Linked DNA regions of Homo sapiens: all the other regions are linked to region 1. Evidence: fine-mapped expression QTL. A gene starts in region 1. Each other region holds a variant in brackets. All regions are shown on one strand. Distances are between the middles of the regions.

The links.
Region 2: its variant is fine-mapped to the expression of GSTM3 in thyroid (GTEx, PIP 0.92).
Region 3: its variant is fine-mapped to the expression of GSTM3 in left ventricle (GTEx, PIP 0.97). The same link has a PIP of 0.9 or more in gastroesophageal junction.
Region 4: its variant is fine-mapped to the expression of GSTM3 in whole blood (INTERVAL, PIP 0.91).

The regions. Positions count from the first base shown.
Region 1 is chr1:109,738,404-109,744,087 of GRCh38, forward strand. It overlaps GSTM3 (glutathione S-transferase mu 3), which reads right to left and starts at 2,635. Exons shown (of 9, transcript NM_000849.5): 1 at 2,550-2,635; 2 at 1,837-2,108; 3 at 1,430-1,505; 4 at 1,026-1,090. The coding sequence starts at 1,884. RefSeq lists a silencer at 1,845-2,074.
Region 2 is chr1:109,759,251-109,764,802 of GRCh38, forward strand. EPS8L3 (EPS8 signaling adaptor L3) reads right to left here and starts at 4,673. Exons shown (of 19, transcript NM_133181.4): 1 at 4,572-4,673; 2 at 2,469-2,523; 3 at 2,245-2,309; 4 at 428-586; 5 at 1-137. The coding sequence starts at 2,499. LOC124904258 (a long non-coding RNA gene) reads left to right here and starts at 615. Exons shown (of 2, transcript XR_007066303.1): 1 at 615-700. RefSeq lists an enhancer at 1,316-2,045. The variant C/T (reference allele first, on the strand shown) is at 2,057.
Region 3 is chr1:109,709,543-109,715,112 of GRCh38, forward strand. It overlaps GSTM5 (glutathione S-transferase mu 5), which reads left to right and starts at 2,709. Exons shown (of 8, transcript NM_000851.4): 1 at 2,709-2,806; 2 at 3,076-3,151; 3 at 3,577-3,641; 4 at 3,942-4,023; 5 at 4,119-4,219; 6 at 5,405-5,500. The coding sequence starts at 2,771. The variant C/G (reference allele first, on the strand shown) is at 3,432.
Region 4 is chr1:109,670,949-109,676,632 of GRCh38, forward strand. GSTM2 (glutathione S-transferase mu 2) reads left to right here. Exons shown (of 8, transcript NM_000848.4): 6 at 339-434; 7 at 525-635; 8 at 3,799-4,338. The coding sequence ends at 3,888. Among named protein-coding and RNA genes, the nearest start is that of GSTM2, 5.7 kb to the left of the region's middle. The variant G/A (reference allele first, on the strand shown) is at 2,866.

The DNA.
Region 1 (5,684 bases):
TCTCTCTTGATTCCCTACCTCTCTCTCCAGGGGAAAAGAACACTTGCAGGGCAGTGAACAAGAGTGAGAAGATGCTGTGTTAGGAGAAAAAAGAAAATAAGTAGAAGGTAGCAACTGGGTCCACAAGATTCTAGACAGGGGTTCTTAAATTGGTGTGTGTATGTGTGAGTGTATGTGCATGCCATGGACCTTTTCTCAGAATAAAGTTGTTAAATGCATGAAGCAAAATAGATAATTTACACAATCAAAAAATATTTTTAAAAATTCAAATAAGAGTAACATGTGCCTATTAGTGCATTAAATAGCAAGCAGATGTAATGACTAACATAATCTCAAAGTAAATAACATTATATGTATATATTTACTTACATGTATATAAATATCACTTAAAATATCTGCAACGCATGTTATAGAATATGAAACTACCTGATTTCAGGCTGGGCACAGTGGCTCATGCCTGTAATCCCAACACTTTGGAAGGCCGAGGTGGGAGGACTGTTTGAGCCCAGAAGTTCAGGATCAGCCTGGGTAACATGGCAAAACCCCGTCTCTTACAAAAATACAAAAATTAGCTGGGCATAGTGGTGTGTGCCTGTAGTCCCAGCTCCTTGGGAGGCTGAGGTGGGAGGACTGCTTGAGCCTGGGAGGTTGAGGCTGCAGTGAGCTGTGATTGCGCCACTGCACTCCAGCCTGAGCGACAGAGTGAGACACTGTCTCAAAACAAAAGAACAAGAAACACACAAAAAAGAAAATACCTGATTTCTACTAGTGACAAAGTGACAGACATGGCTAATAACCAATGTCACTTATTGTCTCTCTTCACAATAAAAGGAAATAACTTTTGCTAGTGGTTAATGGGAATGAAAATACATATCCATCCAGTTCAAGGACCCCTGAATTCTATTTATTCTATCCGGGTTAAGATCCCCTATTTTGCATCCTTCTGTACCAGGCAGGAGAGAGGCAAGGATGGATATACTTGAAGGCTTTCCCTTCTGCCCGCCACCTCTACTAAAGCCACTTACATTAGGAAAGTCCAGGTCTAGCTTGAATTTCACATCCAGCCATTGGCTTCGATCATAGTCAGGAGCTGTAAGAGACGGAATTAAGTGGGACCCAACCTCCTTAATACCCCACCTGACAAGAGCAAAAGATCTAAAGAAATGACTTGGTCCCAATACCTCAAATTCCCAGGCCCCAAAAGCATAACCATTGAGCCTCTGAGCCCTATTTGGTTAAGCATTAAGACGGGTTTGGGCTATGTTAAAAAGAGAACCCCCAGTTCCAGATAAAGGATGTGTCTCTATTCACCCAGATTGGGGCAAACGTCCCACCCGGCCTTGGCGCGACGCCACCACCCTCTGGGCGTAAGAAGACCAGGGCAGGTGGAGGGCCAGCTTGGCTGCACGGGCACGCGGAGCGGCATTACCTTCCCCGCACGTGTACCGTTTCTCCTCATAAGAGGTATCCGTGAACTCCAGGAGCAGGCGGATGGCGTGCGCCAGCTGGGGAAGACAGCGGTTCAGCGACTGCGCAGCTCCCACCCATTCCCAACCCCCGCCCGCTAACGTTCCCCGGCCCGGGGCTGCCGAGTCCCTGCGTCCTGCCGGGGCGGTGGTTAAGCGGCCCCTAGGCCCGGCTCCGGCGTGGTCTCCTCCGCCCCTCCCCACAGGGCCCGCGATCCCAGAGGCTGGGCAGGGGTCGACATCCGTGGCTCGGCAGCTCGAAAAGGCTCCCGCGTAGAGCTGCTCCTGCTGGAGATCGCGGACCCAGAGACCCGCCCTCTCCGCGTCAGTCTCTTTGACCGAGCGGCTCTACCGTTGAGACGGCACTCACCCCACGAATATCCCAGTACCCGAGAACCATAGACGACTCGCACGACATGGTGACGGGCTTCCGAGCCTTCGAGGACTAGGGAAACTGTGAGCGGGAGGGGCTTTATACCCGACATAAGGGGGCGGGGCCCACGCGCGGGCGCCCTGACTCCGCCTCCGCCCCGTTCTCCGTCCCTTGCCTCCGCGGCTCCACAGGGCCGTGCGCAGGCGCGACTAATGCCGGCGTTGGGGTTCAGGGCCTGGCGACCCCGAGGCGGGACCCGGGCAGGAGTGCTGCAGGAGAGCAAAGGACCCGAGGTTGAGGCTCCTCCCTTCCCCGCGGGTGGGAGCCAGACTTCATTCATTAATGGTGCCAGTGAAGACGCGAAAAGCACCACTAGCCAGGCAGTGGGGACCCTAGTTACCCAGGGAGAGCGAGATTCGCGCCGTTTTTACCGAGCCAGCCGGGGCTGGATGAAGGATAGGAAGACTGGGGCAAGGCCGGAGAGTCAGACCAGCCTCTGACCACACAGAGCAGAAGATTCCCCACAGACCAAGCTCCCCTCTCTGTCAGTCAAGGACCTCTGCAACCTGACCCCAACGTGCTTTTCCAGTCCTGTCTCTCCCTCAGCCCGTCACAACTTCATAAGCCAGCCCAACCCAACAATACTTGCTGTTCCTTCTACACACACTTGCATTTCCCACCTTGGAGTGTTTGCTCTGTGATCCTCCTACCTGCATCCTAATTTCCACAGCCTATCCTTCCTCAGCAGCCTTGCTGAAATGTCTGCCTATTCCTTGAAGCCTTCTCAGAACCAACCTCTATCCTGGCCAGAAGAGGTCTCTTATCTTGAATGTTTCCTACCTTTGTTTTATGGGCTTAAGTAATTTATGGATTCCTTATTATAATTTCCTCCTCCAATCCCTCCCACTTCCTAATGCTCACGCATTTAGGGAAATTAATCTTGCCTCTTTGTGTAGGATGGACTGGAGGAGGAAAGGTACTACCATTTTTCATTCACTCATTCATCTGTCCAACAATGTTTAACATGCCTGTTATGGACAGGCACTGTTTTAGGTGCTGGGGATACAGAACTGAACTCAACAGACAAAATCCCTGCCCTCAGGAAGTTTACATTCTAATGGGGAAGAAATAAACTAATATATAGTAAATAGCTAGTAAGTCAGGTGGTGATACACATCCTATGGAGAGAAATAAAATCGAGAAGAGAGATAGGGGGTCTCAGGGTGGGAACTGGGGGAGTCCCAGTAGGAAGGGGATTTATGTTTTTAAAGGTTATGTTCATAGAAGGCCTCATGGAGAAGTTAATCTTTAAACAAAGACCTGAAGGAGGTGAGAGATCAAGCCACTCTGCTGTGGGGGCCACCATGGGCTGATATAAATATAAAACAGAATAATTGCTGTTCCTTTTACAAGCATGTTTGCTCTGCTCCTGCCTGCACCCTAATGTCCATGGCCTAGCCTTCCTCAAGTAGCCGTGCTCAAATGCTCACTTCTTCCTTGAAGCCTTCTCAGAATCACCCTCTATCCTGGCCAGAAGAGTTCTCTCCCTCTCTTATCTCGAATCACTTCCTACCTGCAGGAGGCAGAGAGAACTCCAGGAAAAGGGAAACAGCAAGTACAGGAGTGATCACTCTGTGTTTGAAACCAGAGACTAGATGAGATCACCATGGGAGCACGAGTAGCAGAGATGAGGTCTAAGGGTTTGAGGTGCTCTGGCATATCAACATGTAAAGGTTAGGGAAAAATGAGAGCAAACCAGCAAAGGAGTCTGAAAAGGAGTGGCCAGGGAGGTAGGAGGAAAACAAAAGGTCCCAGAAGCCATGTGAAGATGTTTAAAGGGAGAAGTGATCAACTATGTCAAGTGTGGCTGATCAAGTAAGATGAAGATGGAGAATCAATGGTTGAATTTAGGAAAGTAGGGGTTTTGACCTTGACAGAGCAAGAGACCTGCCCGAGGCCCCTATAGTCATGGGAAGAACTAAGCTTCTGAATTTCGGCAGGGCCCATGCAAATGAAAAGGGGCACAGATTTGCAACAGGGTCAACTCGGGAGACATAGGATTCTAGTTGAATGTGGAGGAGTGACAGAGGAAGGAGTCCGGAGCTGCTCTGAGGGTTCTGGCCAGGCCTCTGCAGCACAGCTCTCAGGGCAGTCTGAGAGCCTAGATCCCCTAGCTCAGGTGTGGGAAATCACATTTGCCCATCAGTTCAACTGAAGCAAGGTTGGGACTTTTTAAAAGGGCATTTTGCTAAACAGAAGAAAGGAAGAGTACAAACCACATGGACAGGTGAAATTTATAATGCCTGTGTCTCTCCTCCCAAGAAAGCAAAAGGCCAGTCACAAATTCACCTGAGGTATAAGATTAACATTTATTGAGCACCTATCATATGCCAGGCAATATCTAAGTGTTTACGTATGTTAGCTAATTTATTCCAATTTAAGCTTCACAACAACTTTAGGAAGTAGGTGTTATGCCCATTTTCTTTTCTTTTTCTTTTTTTTTTTTTGCAGTTTTTGCATTACTTTCTTTTTTTTAAATTTTATTATTATTACACTTTAAGTTTCAGGGTATATGTGCACAATGTGCAGGTTTGTTACATATGTATACATGTGCCATGTTGGTGTGCTGCACCCATTAACTCCTCATTTAACACTAGGTATATCTCCTAATGCTATCCCTCCCCCCTCCCCCCACCCCACAACAGTCCCTGGAGTGTGATGTTCCCCTTCCTGTGTCCATGTGTTCTCATTGTTCAGTTCCCACCTATGAGTGAGAACATGCGGTGTTTGGTTTTTTGTCCTTGCGATAGTTTGCTGAGAATGATGGTTTCCAGTTTCATCCATGTCCCTACAAAGGACATGAACTCATCATTTTTTATGGCTGGATAGTATTCCATGGTGTATATGTGCCATGTTTTCTTAATCCAGTCTATCGTTGTTGGACATTTGGGTTGGTTCCAAGTCTTTGCTATTGTGAATAGTGCCGCAATAAACATACGTGTGCATGTGTCTTTATAGCAGCATGATTTATAATCCTTTGGGTATATACCCAGTAATGGGATGGCTGGGTCAAATGGTATTTCTAGTTCTAGATCCCTGAGGAATCGCCACACTGACTTCCACAATGTTGAACTAGTTTACAGTCCCACCAAAAGTGTAAAAGTGTTCCTATTTCTCCACATCCTCTCCAGCACCTCGTTTCCTGACTTTTTAATGATTGCCATTCTAACTGGTGTGAGATGGTAACTCATTGTGGTTTTGATTTGCATTTCTCTGATGGCCAGTGATGGTGAGCATTTTTTCATGTGTTTTTTGGCTGCATAAATGTCTTCTTTTGAGAAGTGTCTGTTCATATCCTTTGCCCACTTTTTGATGGGGTTGTTTGTTTTTTTCTTGTAAATTTGTTTGAGTTCATTGTAGATTCTGGATATTAGCCCTTTGTCAGATGAGTAGGTTGTGAAAATTTTCTCCCATTTTGTAGGTTGCGTGTTCACTCTGATGGTAGTTTCTTTTGCTGTGGAGAAGCTCTTTAGTTTAATTAGATCCCATTTGTCAATTTTGGCTTTTGTTGCCATTGCTTTTGGTGTTTTAGACATGAAGTCTTTGCCCATGCCTATGTCCAGAATGGTATTGCCTAGGTTTTCTTCTAGGGTTTTTATGGTTTTAGGTCTAACATGTAAGTCTTTAATCCATCTTGAATTAATTTTTGTATAAGGTGTAAGGAAGGGATCCAGTTTCAGCTTTCTACATATGGCTAGCCAGTTTTCCCAGTACCATTTATTAAATAGGGAATCCTTTCCCCATTGCTTGTTTTTGTCAGGTTTGTCAAAGATCAGATGGTTGTA
Region 2 (5,552 bases), 21 kb after region 1:
CACTGGAAGAGCAGAGTGCTAGTGCCTGGCAGGCCCGGCTCCTGCACGGTGATGGACAGGATGGAGTTGTAGGAACATGTGTTGAGCGCCACATTCATGGCCTGGATGCTGTCTAGGCGGTAAGAGTCCAGCTCCTCCTGGGCCAGGTGGAGAGGTCAACTGTGAGGCCACCAGAGCTAGGTGTGGCTTCTGGGAGCTCCTGACCAGCTCATCCTAGCCCTTTGGTGGCCTAGGGCTGAGGTGTCATCTACCTGACTCTTGTGCCTCTGTCCCCAGCCTCTGTCCCCTGTCTCTTCCTAGGCTTGGGTGTGTGTTGTATGTGGGGAGAGTGGCTGCCCTTTGGGGCATGGAGGGTGGAGTTCAAGAGCTAGTGCTTGCTTCCCCACAGCCCAGGCTGGCTATCACTGGGTTTGCTGGGAAGGCTGACCTTGGTCTCAATGTCCAGCAGCTGCAGCCAGCCGTCCCTGACCTGCAGGATCAAGTCTTGGCTCCACACCCGGCCCTGTGCATCCATCTCGAACAGCTTCTGCAAGGCATCCTCGGGCCCCTGGACTCTCTGACTCCCCTGCTTGCATGTCATCAAGTGCTGCAGGGAGAGGGGGAGTCCTAGGACTGGGAGAAAGCTCAGAGAGGTGGACCACAGGCGTGCTGGGTAGAGAAAAGCAGAAGAGGAAGAAGACGTGTCCTCGGCCCCCTTGAGGTAGGAGGTTCCAGGCTTCAGATAAAGCAACTTTCCAGGGCCAATGTGAGGGACGGTGTCGAAGCACTGGGGCCAGGGATAGGGCCTCCAAGTCTGAGTCTGAGGGGCTGCAGGAGGGGTTTGAGGACTCTGGAGGAAGGACAGGCATGGCCTTTACTAGTCCAGGCCAGGTGAGGCAGCTGGGTGGTGGAGGATGTGGGCTCCAGCCACCCAACAAATAACTCCTCTGGAGGTGATACAGGACCCTCAGATTCTGTCCCTGGCTTCCTTTGTTCCTTTTGGGAACTCAGTCCCAGCCCAGTCTTCCTCCTCACTCACCCAGCATTCCTGTCTCCTTCTCCCTGGTTCATGCCTGGAGATATCCATCGTGATCTCAGTCTCCGCTCAAGTCCTTGCCTACTGCTAGGCTGACCATCCAGGAGTTTTTTGCTGTTATCCACTCTCCTTTAGGAGCCCCCTCCCTTCTCCCAGCCAAACATTACCTTCACAAGGCCCCTTCCACCCAGGCTTCTTGTGGTAGGGAGATGCAGCCTGCCTCCTGCCCTTTGACCCCACCCCCCTGCCCAGGGCCCAGCTCTTCTCCCTGTGTTCGCACTGCCAGCATATTCAGGGGACTCTGGCATCATGAGCAAACTCCATCCTCCTCTTGCTCTGCCTGCTGGGCCTAAAAGAAGCCTCTTCCCAGCCTCCACCCTACAGAGAAGCTGAGTCCTCCTGGCCTCTCCTCGGCTGGCTAGGGGAGCTCTGCCTCTGCTGCCCTGTGGGACCTGCTGCCCTGTGGGACCTGCAGACCATCGCCCCAGCTCCCTCCCTGCTTGTTCTCCATTGGAGCCACTAACAAGTGGTGGCCAGGACAGGATGGCTTCTACCCCAGAGCTCCAGCCTGACCCTCTGCCTGCTCTCCCCACCACGCCCTTGTAGCCTGTGCTTCGCCTTCACCTTGGTGTCGACAGCCCTTCAGGCACCTAAATCTTGCAGTGCCTGCATCATCCTCCCTGGTAGAGCCAGAGACTCCATTCTAGCCTTGGAGCAGCCTCGGAGCTGCTCACAGTCACCCTGGAGGCTTGGGCCCAGGTGCCTCCCCTCTCCAACAGTGGCCCTCTCAATCCCCCACAGGGCCCAAAGATCCCAAAGATCCCACACACTCCTGCCTCCAGCCATGCAAGGTCTTGGGCAATGGAGCAGTGCCCTGGGGACTCGGGCAGCAGGGGGTTGGGAGACAGGGGAGGGTAGGTGGGTGGGTGGTTGTAGGTGCTTCTTATCCCATCCTGCTGCTACTTCTTCCTGTCTGGGGACAGGACACTCACCCGCTCAACCTCCAGCCAGGCCTGCTCTGTTCAATCTGACCACCCCTCC[C/T]CGTCCCTGACACTGAGCAGATGCTCTGGCAGGCTTGTTGGATCTGAGTCCATGCGACATGGTTGGGACAGGCTGTTGGCTTCTGGGGCAGGGACTTGTGTGAAGTGTCCATGTTCTGGCAGGGCGGTGGGCACATGGGAACACTTGGGTTTAGTTGGACACTGCCCGGGGGCTGCAGAGGTACTCACCTCCACCCTGTGCTGCAGGAGGGTGGGCTCTGAGGTGAGGTTCTGGGAGTACTCCTTCCGGTGCACTACAAGGGCACAGAGCAAGGGGCGGGAGGTGGGCAGAAGAACGAGGTGAGACTCAGGCAACTGCTGGGGGCAGTTGGTGTGAGGAAGGGGGAGTGGAGGATGGGACATTCTGGGGGCTCAGTGGGAGGGCACGGGAGAGGGGCCTGCCAGGAGCTTACAGTAAATGGCTCTGCTGCTGGGCCTTGACATGTTGACGCTGCTGAGGACGGCTCCCTAGAACCCAAAGTGAACCAGAGGCAGCCATCAGAGCTGGGGAAAGGTGTACCAGGCACAGCAGGGCAGGACAGTTGCTATTGCTCTGACTGGGGGCCTCTGGGACCAGACCCAAAGCCCCTGGCTCCAGGGGCCCTTTCCGGAGCCATCTGCAGCCAGCGTCCTCCACTGAGGAGCCCTCCATCCTGGCTGGGCCTGGAGGCCCCGGGCTGAGGGAAGGGAGGGTCAGGGAGGCCACAGCATGGCTGGGCCTCAGGGAAGGCTCCAGGCCTCCCATGGTTTGGCTGATAAAGCTCATGCCAAGGAGCCCAGGAAACCTGGATGGACAGGGACCTGCGTTCAGATCCTATCTTGGGCCTGGGTATGAAAGATGCTGGATGAGCAGAGGGTTCTGTAGCCGACCCCGCCAGAGGAGGCCCTCTTGTTCGACCCTGTTTCAGTTCTGCAAACTGAGAGGACGCTGATGCTGGCTCTTCAGCTGTAGACCCTCTGGGAAGACTGCATGCATGTGTGTGTGTACTTATGGTGGCACTGCAGGACTCGCCAGTGAGCTGACCTCCCCCAAGTGTCTCCCTAGGCCTCCTGGCTCTTTGCTTTTTGTACTCTGTATCCTCTGCCCAGGTCCCCTCCTGACCCCAACCCTTTAAATTCTAGCTCAAAGATCACCCTCTTGGTGAAGCCCTCCTGGACCATCCAACCCCACCCTGCCCAGGGTACCCTCCTAATGCTGCACTGGACCTTGTACATTTATCTCCAGCAACAATAGTCACAATAGCCACCACGGTGCTGTGAGCCTGGTGCTGAGCCCCTTACCAACATCCTATCAGTTTCTCCTCACTGCCGTCCACTTGTACTTACTTGGCGCCACGTGCCTAGCACTGTTCTAACGGCGTTACCTTCAGTCACTCTAATCCTCAAAACAACCTCACAAGGCAGGTACTGGTATTGTCCCCATTTACCATATGAGGACTCTGAGGCTCAAAGACGGTAACAGGCCTGAGGTCACAAATGAACGTTTAATAGAGAGCAACCCAGATCTGTCCGATTGCAAGCTTCGTGTTTTAATGGTTTATAAACATGCCTCTGCCGCTGGGCTGTGCGCAGTCACAGAGGGAGTCTAGAGAACATACATGTTGAAATGGAGTGGAATTAAATGTGGTGTGTGTGTCCCGGGTGGGGGTGGTGTTAGTCTGTGCGGGTCAAGGGTATGTGTTATCCAAATGAGGTTTGTGGGTATCCACATGTCTACATGGTACACCTCAGTTGTGCAGAAATACTGGACTACCCCGGGTAACATGTGAGAGAGCAACCCATACCCTTGTTTATTAGGACTGTTGTGAAAATGACGTAGGATCTGATAAGATGACTCAGTGTGGAAGGAAATAAACTGCCAGTGAACAATTAAGGGAATGTGGAAGGGACGGCTGGATCTCTGGTTTCCTTGTTTGGGAGGACCCCTTTTCTCTCCAGGGGTAAGGCGGGGCTAGAAGCCTGTTCCCCTTCCCCAGCCTCCCCCAACCCCCATTGTAACACTTCCTGCTTCTCCATGCTCTCCATGCAGAAGAGGAAGTGAGGTCTGCCCCTGGTCAGCCCCACTCCCCACTCCCTCAACACCAGGGTGGGCCCTGTGGGGCCCTCTAGGTAGGTAGGTCAAGGTGGGGAAACAGCTGCAGCCAAAGATTCCCTACCCCAGGGAGGGAAGAGGGAGCTGGCTTGGCCTGCCTTGCCCCTTAGGGGTAGGGGAGCTGTGACAGCCCATTTCCCCCCTTTAAGCCCTAGATGTAGGGGTTTGGAGCAGGGAAGGCCATCACCTCATAGACCCTGGGGCAAGCATCCCAGAGGCCCTTCCGGAGCCTGGACCTCGCTCTGCTTTCCAGCCCACCAGCCAGCTGCTGAGTCCCAAGCCCCTCCTTGGGCTTGATCCCCTGGGCTGCAGCTGGGAACAGGCTGGAGACCTGGCCTGGGAAGCCACTGAGTTGCCCCCACCTGCCCTGAGATCCCCTGTGACTGGGCTGGGCCCCGATCTTCCCTGGGGGCCAGGCCCTTACCTGGGTGCCAGTGAAGGCCGGGTGCCTGGTCCCCCCAGGAGGCTGGTCTTGGAGCAGGTGGTCCGGTGCTGGTGGTGGAAGGACAGCAGCTTCTCTGCTAGTGGCCACAGGCAGAGCCTGCCTTTGATGAGGTTACAGAGGCAGCCACGCCTGTGCTCTTTGGACTCTGGTGGGTGGGGAGGCTTCCTGGTCACTAACCGCTCAACATCAACCTGGACCTGCGGCAGTGTCTGTGCTGACTGGCGTCCCCAGCTTAGCTAGAGGCCCCTGCTTCCCTGTTTCCCCCACTGCTAGCCTTGGGGTGTGGCCCCCTCTTCCCTCTGCCTTTTAGGTGCCTACTCTGGGGAACAGGTCAGCATCAGGCACGGGGCTGGGACCAGAAGAAGAGAGCACACATGGCCCAGAGTCTGGGTTCTGTGGTGAGGGCACAGGTCGGCTGGAGGTGGACTCCAGGCTTGGGGGAAGCTGTGGGCTGGCGTGTGTGCCATGCCTGTGCGTGGGTGGCACCCATAGGTGTGTGATCCTGTGTACCTGGGTGGTGCCTGTGAGCAGGACATGGATCTTGTCACAGAAGATGGGGACTGAGGCCCCTGGGGCATTACATGGAGCGCTGAGATTCCCTCTGGCAGGGCCCTCATTCTGTCCCTACTGTTGTCCCTTCCAGCAGGAGCCCCCTTACCAGCCCTTTCTCGCTCTTCCACTCTCTTTCCTTCTGTACCCCATCTTGTGCCCAGACCCCTGGTGGACGCCTGGCCAGCTTCAGCAAAGATGGAAAACGGAGGCCTGCATCTATCTCTAGTCATAAACCTACCCACTTCCTGCACTCCATGGTATCGAAAAATCTTTCTTGGCACTCAGAGTGGGCCAGGCTCCCCTGCCCTCTGGGAACTCACAGTCTAACCAACAAGGCCAGGTATAAACAGAAACCAGGGAGCAGGGCAGGAGGGGAGGCGGGGGCGGGGGAGTGCCAGTGAGCCTCGG
Region 3 (5,570 bases), 29 kb before region 1:
TAAAATTCCTCTCTTTGTACTCTTTCTCTTTATTTCTCAGCCAGCTGACACTTATGGAAAATAGAACCTATGTTGAAATACTGGGGGCAGTTTCCCCGATAGCCTTGCTGAGGAAATTAAATTTATGTTCAAGTGCTATTTCTTTATGGAACCAAGGAACAAGTATTTCAAACAATACTAATGTAACAGTACTGGTTCTATGTGTTTCAAAATTATTATTCTCATGAGTGTTAGCTTTCTTAAAAAATCGTTTTTATCAATTGGATCTAGACATCTTATCTTTCACAGCTCAAGACCCATTAACTCAAAATCATAAACTCTTAATGCATAATGAGAAATATAATGATTCCTAGGGCCAGGCACTTGTGTCTGTGCTGGTGCTATTGCCTCAATGCAGGAAAATCTATGTGAGAATTCACTGTGAGGCCAAAACTGCTTCCTAAACATGGATACCTGCCAGGTATCTGAGCTGGGAGTACTGCCCAGGTCTGGATGGGTGGGGAGTGTTTGCAACAAGGACTGTGCCTTGCCAGCCTCAGTGACACAGTGTCCAAGTGCCCCAACTTAGCAGCCACCTGCTGACCACCTGATTTCTGTGGCCTAATAGGGATGTGATGAAGTCTACCTGTTTACTCAACCCCAAACCACACATTATCCAGGTGGTTTGAAACTTTTTTGATATACTGGGTTCATCCTCTGGAGTCCTAACAATGTTTTAGCTAATTTACAAAAAAACAAAAACAAAAACAAAAAACAAAAAACTACTTTTTTTGCAGCACAACAGCCTGGTTTACATTGCAAAATGATTTCTCATTAAAGGTCTATCATCTATTTCCATATATCCATTATTATTTGTAATATCCTTTAAAAAAAGCAGTCAACCCCAGGCTAATCCATTGCACAACTCTTTTGAAAGTCTTCCTTCTACCTTGAAAGAAGAAAGTTGGCAGGTTGGACATTGTTCTTGCGGAGGTTGTACCATGGGTCACATATCACGGTGTGACTTCAAAGGCCACTGGAGCCACCGTCTCATACTGAAGAACACACATGGGTCAGGAGCCAGGTCCAGGTCCGGCATGGTGGATCTGGAGAGGGGAGAGTCCCTGCCTGTGATCCTGTGGGGAGCCCTCAGGCTCCTCTCTGGCCACCATCCTCTGACCTCCCTCCTCAGCAGGACAGGGTTCTGGCTTCTCTGAGGGACAGGTTCTGTGGCAGACCAGGTGTCACTAACACAGGCCTCCATAACAACTGTTTCAGTACTGACTGAGTGATGAAATTAAATATTAAAAGCTGAAAAAAGCCAGTACCTTTATACAGAGGCTGGATGTAACAAAAGCCCACCAAGAGTTTTGCTTAGGCCTTTCCTGGGCCTTAAAGCATGACAAAACAACGAAGGAATTCTTAACAGGACCTATTTAGAATTAAACAAGTTTTATTGTGAGTCTGAAGAAACTCCCCAGGCCTCCACAAACAAGTTTACTGGGCATCTGAAGGAACTCCCCAAACCTCCATGATTTAGCAGGAGACAAGATAAGGGCAATCATCCCCCGCACCTGGACCCATTTAGATTAAGTAAATAGACTGAGGCTCCAGAGTAAGGTCCTCAGGACCCAGACCTCAGTTACAGATTAAAGAAGTTAATCACTTATGTCTTTAGATGAATGCACACTTACTTGTAGACATATACCTTAGAAGGTATATATGCTCTGGAAAACTTTAATTTTGAGTTGGTCTGGTAGTAATTTCCAGGCCTTCTCCCTGTAACTGGTTGCAGAAATAAAACCTCTCTTCCTCCCCATTTGATCTGCATCTCGTTATTGGGCCTAGAGAAATAGCAGCCGGACCCTCAGTTTGGTCCGGGAAGTTCTTCCATCCTCCCTCGCCTGCTCTCTGTGGCCACTGCACTCACTGTTGCTGTTGCTGTTCCGGTCTCTGTGAGGTTCACCTAGTGGACTGGCTGGACATTTCTAGGGGGCACCTCAGATACCTCACCAACTTGCTGGATCTGATCCTTGGATTTCGATTCATAAATTGTGCCAAAATACGAAGTGGCTAATTTACATAGTACTTAGCCAGATGACCGAAGGACTCAGTATCCAAAGGCCCCTAACAGAAAACACAGACCACATTTCCTTTACTCTGGCCCTTTTCCTGGGGGTCCTTCCTATACCACTGACACTGTTCCTGTGTAGGCGGGGCTAGAGGGGAGACTAAGCCCTCGGAGTAGCTTTCGGATCAGAGGAAGTCCTGCTCTTACAGTGACAGGGGCTGAATTAAATTCCCAGGTTGGGACCACCACTTTTTAGTCTGACCCCTGCAGCCGGAGTCTCCCAGAGCCCTTGGGAACTCGGCAGCGGAGAGAAGGCTGAGGGATTCTGCGGGCAGGGAGGAGAAGGGAGAAGAGCTTTGCTCCGTTAGGATCTGGCTGGTGTCTCAAGCGCACAGCCAAGTCGCTGTGGACCTAGCAAGGGCTGGATGGACTCATGGAGCCTCAGGGCGGGTTGGGGAAGCTGGCGAGGCCGAGCCCCGCTTTGGGCTTCTGGGCGCCCTGACCTCGCTCCCGGAACCCTGGGGACTGGGAGGCGGGAGGGGGCTTATTGATTCCAGCCCCGGGCGCTCGCTCGGGGGCCTACAGAATGGCGTGTTTCGGGGTTGTGGCGGGCCGAGGGGCGGGGTCGCAGCAAGGCCCCGCCTGTCCCCTCCTGGGCCTCTCAAAGTCTGAGCCCCGCTCCGCTGATGCCTGTCTGCAGAATCCGCACCAACCAGCACCATGCCCATGACTCTGGGGTACTGGGACATCCGTGGGGTAAGCGAGGGTCCTCTGGTGGGTGGGACAGGGGGCGGAGGCGGGGATGTGTGGAGTAGCTGCAGGACTGGCTCTAGGGACCGTTCCTCTTCAGGGCTGCCCGCCTCAGAAGGGCCTGTGCATGACGCTGTGTGTGTGTTTGGGGGTGGGGGCGGGTAGAGGAGGCGACGGGTACGTGCAGTATAGACTAGGGGCTGGCCTGGTGCAGAGAAAGTCACCAAGTCAGGGACCCTCCATCTCTGACCCGAGCCGCGGGCCATCTCTCCCAGCTGGCCCACGCCATCCGCTTGCTCCTGGAATACACAGACTCAAGCTATGTGGAAAAGAAGTACACGCTGGGGGACGGTAATGGCACCCTCGTGTCCGGGCCCTGCCCACTCACGCTGAGTTGGCACCAAGCAACCCATGGTGGCCACCTGTGGCTGCCTCTGCAGGCCTCCCCTGCTGGAGCTGCAGGCTGTCCCTTCCCTGAGCTCCCGTGAGTGAGCCCTCTGGCCTTGCAAGGCAGAATGCTGGGGCGGGATGCTGGACACCCTGTCTAATTGGGTTGGGTGTCCCTCAGAGCTTCCCTAAACCCTGGAAGCCTTAGCCGTTGTGGGGTCCAGAGCCCTCAGTGGGATTCTTT[C/G]TCCCTGAACCCTGGGATGTGGGACTGAGTGGTCAGATTCTAGATCCACCTGTCTCAGGGATCTTGCCACTGGCTCCTTGGGAGGGTCCCCGGGAAGGAGGGCTGGGCTCTGGGGAGGTTTGTTTTCACTTCTTCCCCACCACAGCTCCTGACTATGACAGAAGCCAGTGGCTGAATGAAAAATTCAAGCTGGGCCTGGACTTTCCCAATGTAGGTGCAGGGGAAGGGGCGGTTTTGGGGGAAAGTGCGACGTGTCTCTGACTGCATCTCCTCTCCCCACCTTAGAGGTGTTAAGATCAGGAGTCTTCTGCCCAATTCCTCTCACTCTTGGCTGTCTACACAGCCCTTGCATGATGTTCTGTGTCCCAGCTCATTTATTAGTGTGACAGTATTTCTATCTCAGGCCTGCCATGAGCAGGCCCTGGTCTCCTCTCTGCCCTTGCATATGGGAAGGGGATGCTGGGGAGCCTGGTGGCCCAACTGAGCTTCCCCGGTTTCCCATCTATCCAGCTGCCCTACTTGATTGATGGGGCTCACAAGATCACCCAGAGCAATGCCATCCTGCGCTACATTGCCCGCAAGCACAACCTGTGTGAGTGTGGGTGGCTGCAATGTGCGGGGGGAAGGTGACCTCCTCCTTGGCTGGGCTGTGATGCTGAGATTGAGTCTGTGTTTTGTGGGTGGCAGGTGGGGAGACAGAAGAGGAGAAGATTCGTGTGGACATTTTGGAGAACCAGGTTATGGATAACCACATGGAGCTGGTCAGACTGTGCTATGACCCAGATTTTGTGAGTCCCACACCCCACTCCCAGTCACCCATTTCCCTGCCTTTTGGCCCAGACCAGGGAGGGACTTCCAAAGTCAGGTCTGTAGCAGACTCCGGCCAGCTGACTGGAGACGTCTATAACCTGGTTCTCCAAAATGTCCACACGAATCTTCTCCTCTTCTGAAGATTCTTGTGGACATTTTGGAGAACCAGACCACGGACAACTGGATGCAACTGGTCATGATCTGCTACCACCCAGAGTTTGTGAGTCTCCCCAGTGAGCTGCACCTGGCAGAGTTTGGATTTGGGGCCAGGACTCTTGCATTCCTGCACGCACTGGTCTTTTCTTAAGTCCTTGGTACCACTCATCCTCCAAGTGCTTTCCCATACTATCAGCAGTTATTCTCACGACTCCAATGTCATGTCAACAAAAGCAGAGGCAATTCCCACCAATCTTAGGACACGATCCAGGCATCCCACGGTGGAAATTCAATTCCTAGATGGTAAAATTTGTGTTCAGAATCTCCTTCATCTCCTCTGGCCTCTGGCCTCTGTCATGGGTCATTTCTGTCAGTTGATTTATATCACCTACCTGCTCCTAGAATATACAGACTCAAGTACAAGACCAAGGAATGTAATGGCACCCTCAAATTGCATCTTCTCCTCAAAGTTTTCCAAGTGCTGTCATTGACATGCACCGGGATCTGCGCATTTTCATAACAGACAGCTCAGAGGCAGCCAGAGGGCCTTTATTCCTCTCCCTCCTTCCTTTCAACTTGAACTTCTCATCTCCCTGGAAACTAGTCAATGTTCATTGTTTTCTTCTGTCACCCCATTAGAAGGAACTTTCTACTTCTTTCCCTGAGCTCCTTTAGTTCTTTGCATCCTTGATTCTGCCCCTGTCTGGATCCAGAGGCTGCCAGGTGCTCGGGCGCTCATGCGGCTGACCCAGAGGCTATTGGGAGGCCAGTGAGGACAGATTCAGGAAGAGCATCTCATTCTGATCACTTCAGATAGGGTCTGGCACCCAGTCAGAGTCTAATAAATGCTGATGTATCCAATTGAAGCCTGGGCACTGCCCCGGTTTTAGTTGTGGGGAAGATGGCTGCTTGCCTGTGGCCAGCCTGGGCCATCTACAGCCCTGGGGAGGCCACGTCTGTGCAGGGAGCTTTTGTCTGAGGGTGGTGACAGCTGTTTTCTGCCTCAGGAGAAACTGAAGCCAAAATACTTGGAGGAACTCCCTGAAAAGCTAAAGCTCTACTCAGAGTTTCTGGGGAAGCGGCCATGGTTTGCAGGAGACAAGGTAAAGGAGGAGTGATATGGGGAATGAGATCTGTTTTACTTCATGTGTTTCGGGGTTTTCAGCCCACACA
Region 4 (5,684 bases), 67 kb before region 1:
TGCATCCTTGATTCTGCTCATATCTGGTCCAGAGCCTACCAGGTGCTCAGGTGCTCCTGGGGCTGACCCAGAGGTTGTTGGGAGGTCAGTGGGGACAGATTTAGGGACAGTGTCACATTCCGCTCTGCCATCCCATCACCTCAGAAAGACTCCAGCTACCCAGTTGGAGTCTAATAAATGCTGATGTATCCAGCTGAAGCCTGGACAGTGACCCAGTTCCAGCTGTGGGGAAGATGACTGCTTGCCCGCGGCCAGCTGGGGCCATGCACAAAACTGGGAGGCCGCATCTGTGCAGGGAGCTTGTGTCTGAGGGTGTTGACAGCTGTTTTCTGCCTCAGGAGAAACTGAAACCAGAATACCTGCAGGCACTCCCTGAAATGCTGAAGCTCTACTCACAGTTTCTGGGGAAGCAGCCATGGTTTCTTGGGGACAAGGTAATGGGGGCGTGTGATGGGGACACCACAGATTTGTCATACTTCCTATATTATGGAGGTTTCAGCCCACATATCCTTGGCCTTATCCAGATCACCTTTGTGGATTTCATCGCTTATGATGTCCTTGAGAGAAACCAAGTATTTGAGCCCAGCTGCCTGGATGCCTTCCCAAACCTGAAGGACTTCATCTCCCGATTTGAGGTGATGCCCCCAGCCTCCTTTCTCTTTATGTCTCTTATTCCTTTCCCTCCTTTGTGATGCTTTCCCAGTCCTGGAGCTACACAAAGAATAACTCACATTTTTGGCCATGTGCGGTGGCTCACGCCTGTAATCTCAGCGCTTTGGAGGCTGAGGGAGGCAGATCACCTGTGGTTAGGAGTTTGATACCTGCCTGCCCAACATGGCAAAACCCCATCTTTACTAAAAAAAAATACAAAAATTAGCTGGGCGTGGTGGCGAGCACCTGTAATCCCAGCTACTTGGGAGGCTGAGGCAGGAGAATCACTTGAACCTGGGAGGTGGAAGTTGCAGTGAGCCAAGATCGTGCCACTGCATTCCAGCCTGTATGACAGAGTGTGACTCCATCTCAAGAAAAAAAAAAAAAAAAAAAAAAGGAGCCGGGCATGGTGGCTCACACTTGTAATCCCAGCATTTTGGGAGGCCGAGTTGGGTGGATCACCTGAGGTCGGGAGTTCGAGACCAGCCTGACCAACATGGTGAGACCCCTGTCTCTACTAAAAATACAAAATTAGCTGGGCGTGGTGGCACATGCCTATAATCCCAGCTACTAGGGAGGCTGAGGCAGGAGAATCTCTTGAACCTGGGAGGCGGAGGTTGCGGTGAGCCAAGATCGTGCCATTGCACCCCAGCCTGGGCAACAAGAGTGAAACTCCATCTCAAACAAAAAAAAGAAGAAAAGAATAACTTGCATTTATTGAGTGCTGGCTTCATGCCACGAACTGTACCCAGCACATTATACCTATTGTGTTGAATTTGAAATTTACAACATTCCTACAGGGTGGTAGAATTATCTCCCCCATTTTAGAGACAAAGAAACTGAGAATGAGAGGGTCAGTCCTTTGCTCAGGGTCCCAGAGCCAGTGGAGGCTGTGCTGGGCTCCCTGCGAGCCTCTGGATCTATGGTTGGCAGTCAGGGCTCTCCGTTTTGTGACAAAAGAAAAGCCTCAGGCCTTGTCCAGCCTGGGTTTCATAGCCCAGGACACTTTGGAAGAGGCAGAGCACTTCAGGACCACGGATGCAGCTGGCAATAGTAGGACTGACACACAGTAGCATTGATGTTCAATACTGAACCCACAGGCAGTATTCACAGCTACACCCAGAAACTTTGTATGATTGAACCCCCATGTGGGGAATCCTGAGAGCCAGGGCTGTGGCTGGAGCTGGATTAAGGTACATATGTGGGTGCCCCTGTTGAAGGAGCTTATGCTGAAATGCCCTGTGCTGGAGCACTTTCCTTCTCTACCTCTTTTTTTTTTTTTTTTTTTGAGACGGAGTCTTGCTCTGTCACCCAGGCCGGAGTGCAGTGGAGCAATCTCGGCTCACTGCAACCTCTGTCTCCTGGGTTCAAGTGATTCTCCTGCCTCAGCCTCTTGAGTAGCTGGGATTACAGGTGTGTACCACCACGTCCAGCTAATTTTTGTATTTTTAGTAGAGATGGGGTTTTGCTATGTTGGCCAGGCTGGTCTCAAACTCCTGACCTCAGGTGATCCACCCACCTCAGCCTCCCTAAGTGCTGGGATTACAAGCGTGAGCCACCGCGCCTGGCCTCTTCCTCTCTTTTTTTCCCTCCAATGTTCCAGGTGTTCCCCCTGTGAGATGAGTAGCACGCTGATTTTACTCCTGTTCACTGACCTTCTCCTCTGCATGAGGCAGGGTGTGAGGCACAGTGGGAGATGCATAGATGACAGCCCCATCCTGGAAATGAGTGCAGTGAGAGGCCTGCAGGCAGAGCAGCCTGTGAAGTGTGTGCTGAACTTGTTTGAGAGCAGCAAATCCTACATTACTACAGATTTGGGGATTTGAGGCATTTGTCCAACAGGCTTCTGAGCCTTGAATCTGTTTCCCTTTTCCACTCCCCATCAAGAGATCTGCTTGCTCAGCTAGTTCCCATCAGCTCTGGTTCTGCGGTTCTGGTCCAGGCTGAGTGGCCTTGGAGTTAGGTAAGAGGTGGTGGGAAGGGAGGGATGGAGGAGAGCTGAGAGCTATGGCCCGTTATGTGCCAGGGTCAAGCCTGTCACCCAGGCTGGAGTGCATTGGTGCGATCTTGGCTCACTGCAACCTCCGCTTCCTGGGTTCAAGCAATTCTCTGCCTCAGCCTACCAAGTAGCTGGGATTACAGGTGCCCGCCACCATGACCAGCTAATTTTTGTATTTTTAGTAGAGATGGGTTTTCACCATGTTGGCCAGGCTG[G/A]TCTCCAACTCTTGACCTCAGGTGATCCACTCGTCTCGGCCTTCCAAAGTGCTGGGATTACAGGTGTGAGCCGGATGTTTTTGAATACCTTATCTGGGCATTCAATCCTGGTAAGATTGTGCACAGCACATCTGAGTGTCATGTAGCCTGATCTGCAGCAGGGCTGGAGATGCCATGGGTTAGGGCACAGTGAGATTTTGCTAAGATACCAGATGGAGAACCTTGGACTTTCTGCTTTAAGGGGAATGATTAGAGCCTAGTCTCGCCTTTGATTTTCTTGTGCACTGCCACTCCCCATTCCACTTTCATCCAGGTTTTACTGAGACATTGGGTGAGTGTGTTCAGAGCCCCTTTGTTCTGCTGGAGGTCCCTTCTGTGTCTCTATACCCAGACAAGCCAAGAGCCTCCCTGTGGAAAAGGAGACTGTTTGTGCAGTCAAGGAGTGACAGGGCCTGGTGTGAGGGGTGGTGGGGCAGAAGAAGAAGAGAATTTGGCAGAAAGAGGCCAGAACTGGAGAGAGACAGAACCAGGCTACATTGAAGTTCTATTCCCCTTACTAGGTATTTAAATGTAAGGAAGTTGCTGAACTTCTGTTTCCCACATGACAAATGGTGATAATAGATTCAGCCTTGCAGAGTAGTCGAGTGGGTTTTCTAAGCTTACGTTGTAATTTCTCTTGGGTACAGAGCACCCAGCACCGTGTAGAATCTTCATAAGTGTTAGCTGTTACTGTGGTACAACATTACTTAAAGGAAGTTGGAAGAGTTAACTCCGCAGATCTGGGGACCCTAAGAAGCTGTGTGATGCCTCAGCACTTGAGCCCACATGGAAAGGCTGTGGCCAGGGCCCTGACCTGCTGTGTCTGCAGTGGGGTTGTGCCAGCCCTCATGGGCAGCTGACCTTGAGTTCTGGCCTTATTTTCCCCCCTCTCAGGGCTTGGAGAAGATCTCTGCCTACATGAAGTCCAGCCGCTTCCTCCCAAGACCTGTGTTCACAAAGATGGCTGTCTGGGGCAACAAGTAGGGCCTTGAAGGCCAGGAGGTGGGAGTGAGGAGCCCATACTCAGCCTGCTGCCCAGGCTGTGCAGCGCAGCTGGACTCTGCATCCCAGCACCTGCCTCCTCGTTCCTTTCTCCTGTTTATTCCCATCTTTACTCCCAAGACTTCATTGTCCCTCTTCACTCCCCCTAAACCCCTGTCCCATGCAGGCCCTTTGAAGCCTCAGCTACCCACTATCCTTCGTGAACATCCCCTCCCATCATTACCCTTCCCTGCACTAAAGCCAGCCTGACCTTCCTTCCTGTTAGTGGTTGTGTCTGCTTTAAAGGGCCTGCCTGGCCCCTCGCCTGTGGAGCTCAGCCCCGAGCTGTCCCCGTGTTGCATGAAGGAGCAGCATTGACTGGTTTACAGGCCCTGCTCCTGCAGCATGGTCCCTGCCTTAGGCCTACCTGATGGAAGTAAAGCCTCAACCACATTTGCTGTGTGTCTTGTCTTATTTGCTCCTGGCCATCTACCCAGACTGTCTGTCTGTCTGTCACTGCCTCTTCCAAGGGACTGGCTGGTGATCCTGGCAGTGGCTGGGTTCTAAAGGATTCTGCTGGGCATAGTAAGGCGCTTGAGAATTCTTGCTCCCATTCCTGAGAGACTCAGAGCAGGAAGCCCCATGAGGCACTGTGGAAAGGATGTCTCTTTCTTGGCCTGGATCTCCCATTCATTCATCCAGCCGTATTGAGTACTTTCCATAATTGCACAGAGCTTGTGTCTCATTGAATAGGACCCCAAGGGGGTGGAATCTCCATCAGAGAGAACCAGGGTCCCTTTTACCTTCTCCACTATATGACTGCATCACTTCTGTTAGGTCTCCAGGACCCAATCTCTATTGTTTTTCTCAGATGGCTTCCAGGTACCCTCTCCAGGCTTGCTGCACAGCTGTCATCAGGACGTTCTCTCTGGGTTTACTTCCTCTCTTTCCTGGGTACCTGTGAGAGAAATGTCTTTAGTCCTTGCATAACTGAAAGTGCCTTTACATGCTTACTGAATACTCTGGCTGAGGATTTAGTCTGTTCTCACGCTGCTAATAGAGACATACCCGAGACTGGGTAATTGATAAAGGAAAGAGGTTTAAAGGACTCACAGTTCCACAGGGCCTGGGAGGCCTCATAACCATGGCAGAAGGCGAATGAGGACCAAAGTAATGTCTTACATGGCAGCAGGCAAGAGGGCGTGTGCAGGGGAACTCCCACTTATAAAACCATCAGATCTTGTGAGACTTATTCACTACCGTGAGAACAGTATGGGGGAAACTGCCCCCATGATGGAGTTTTCTGCACCCGGCCCCCACCCTTGACACCTGGGGATTATTACAATTCAAGGTAAGATGTGGGTGGGGACACAGCCAAACCATATCAGCTGGGGATAGAATTCTATGATGAAAACCTTCAGACTTCTAATAGATTTATTCACTTTTTTCTAGAATTGAGCATTTCTGGTGAGTAGGTCGATGCCAGTCTGACTGCATCCTTTGCTTTTTAAAAATTATTATTATTGTTGTTATTTTGAGAGGAAGTATTACTCTGTCGCCTAGGCTGGAGTGTGGTGGTGTGATCTCGTCTCACTGCAACCTCCCCTTCCTGGGTTCAAACAATTCTCCTTCCTCAGCCTCCCGAGTAGCTGGGACTACAGGCGTGCACACTGTGCCCAGCCGATTTTTGTATTTTTGTTTTAGAGACGGGTTTTCACCATGTTGGCCATGCTGGTCTCGAACTCCTGACCTCGTGATCCACCCACCTCGGCTTCCCAAAGTTCTGGAATTACATGCGT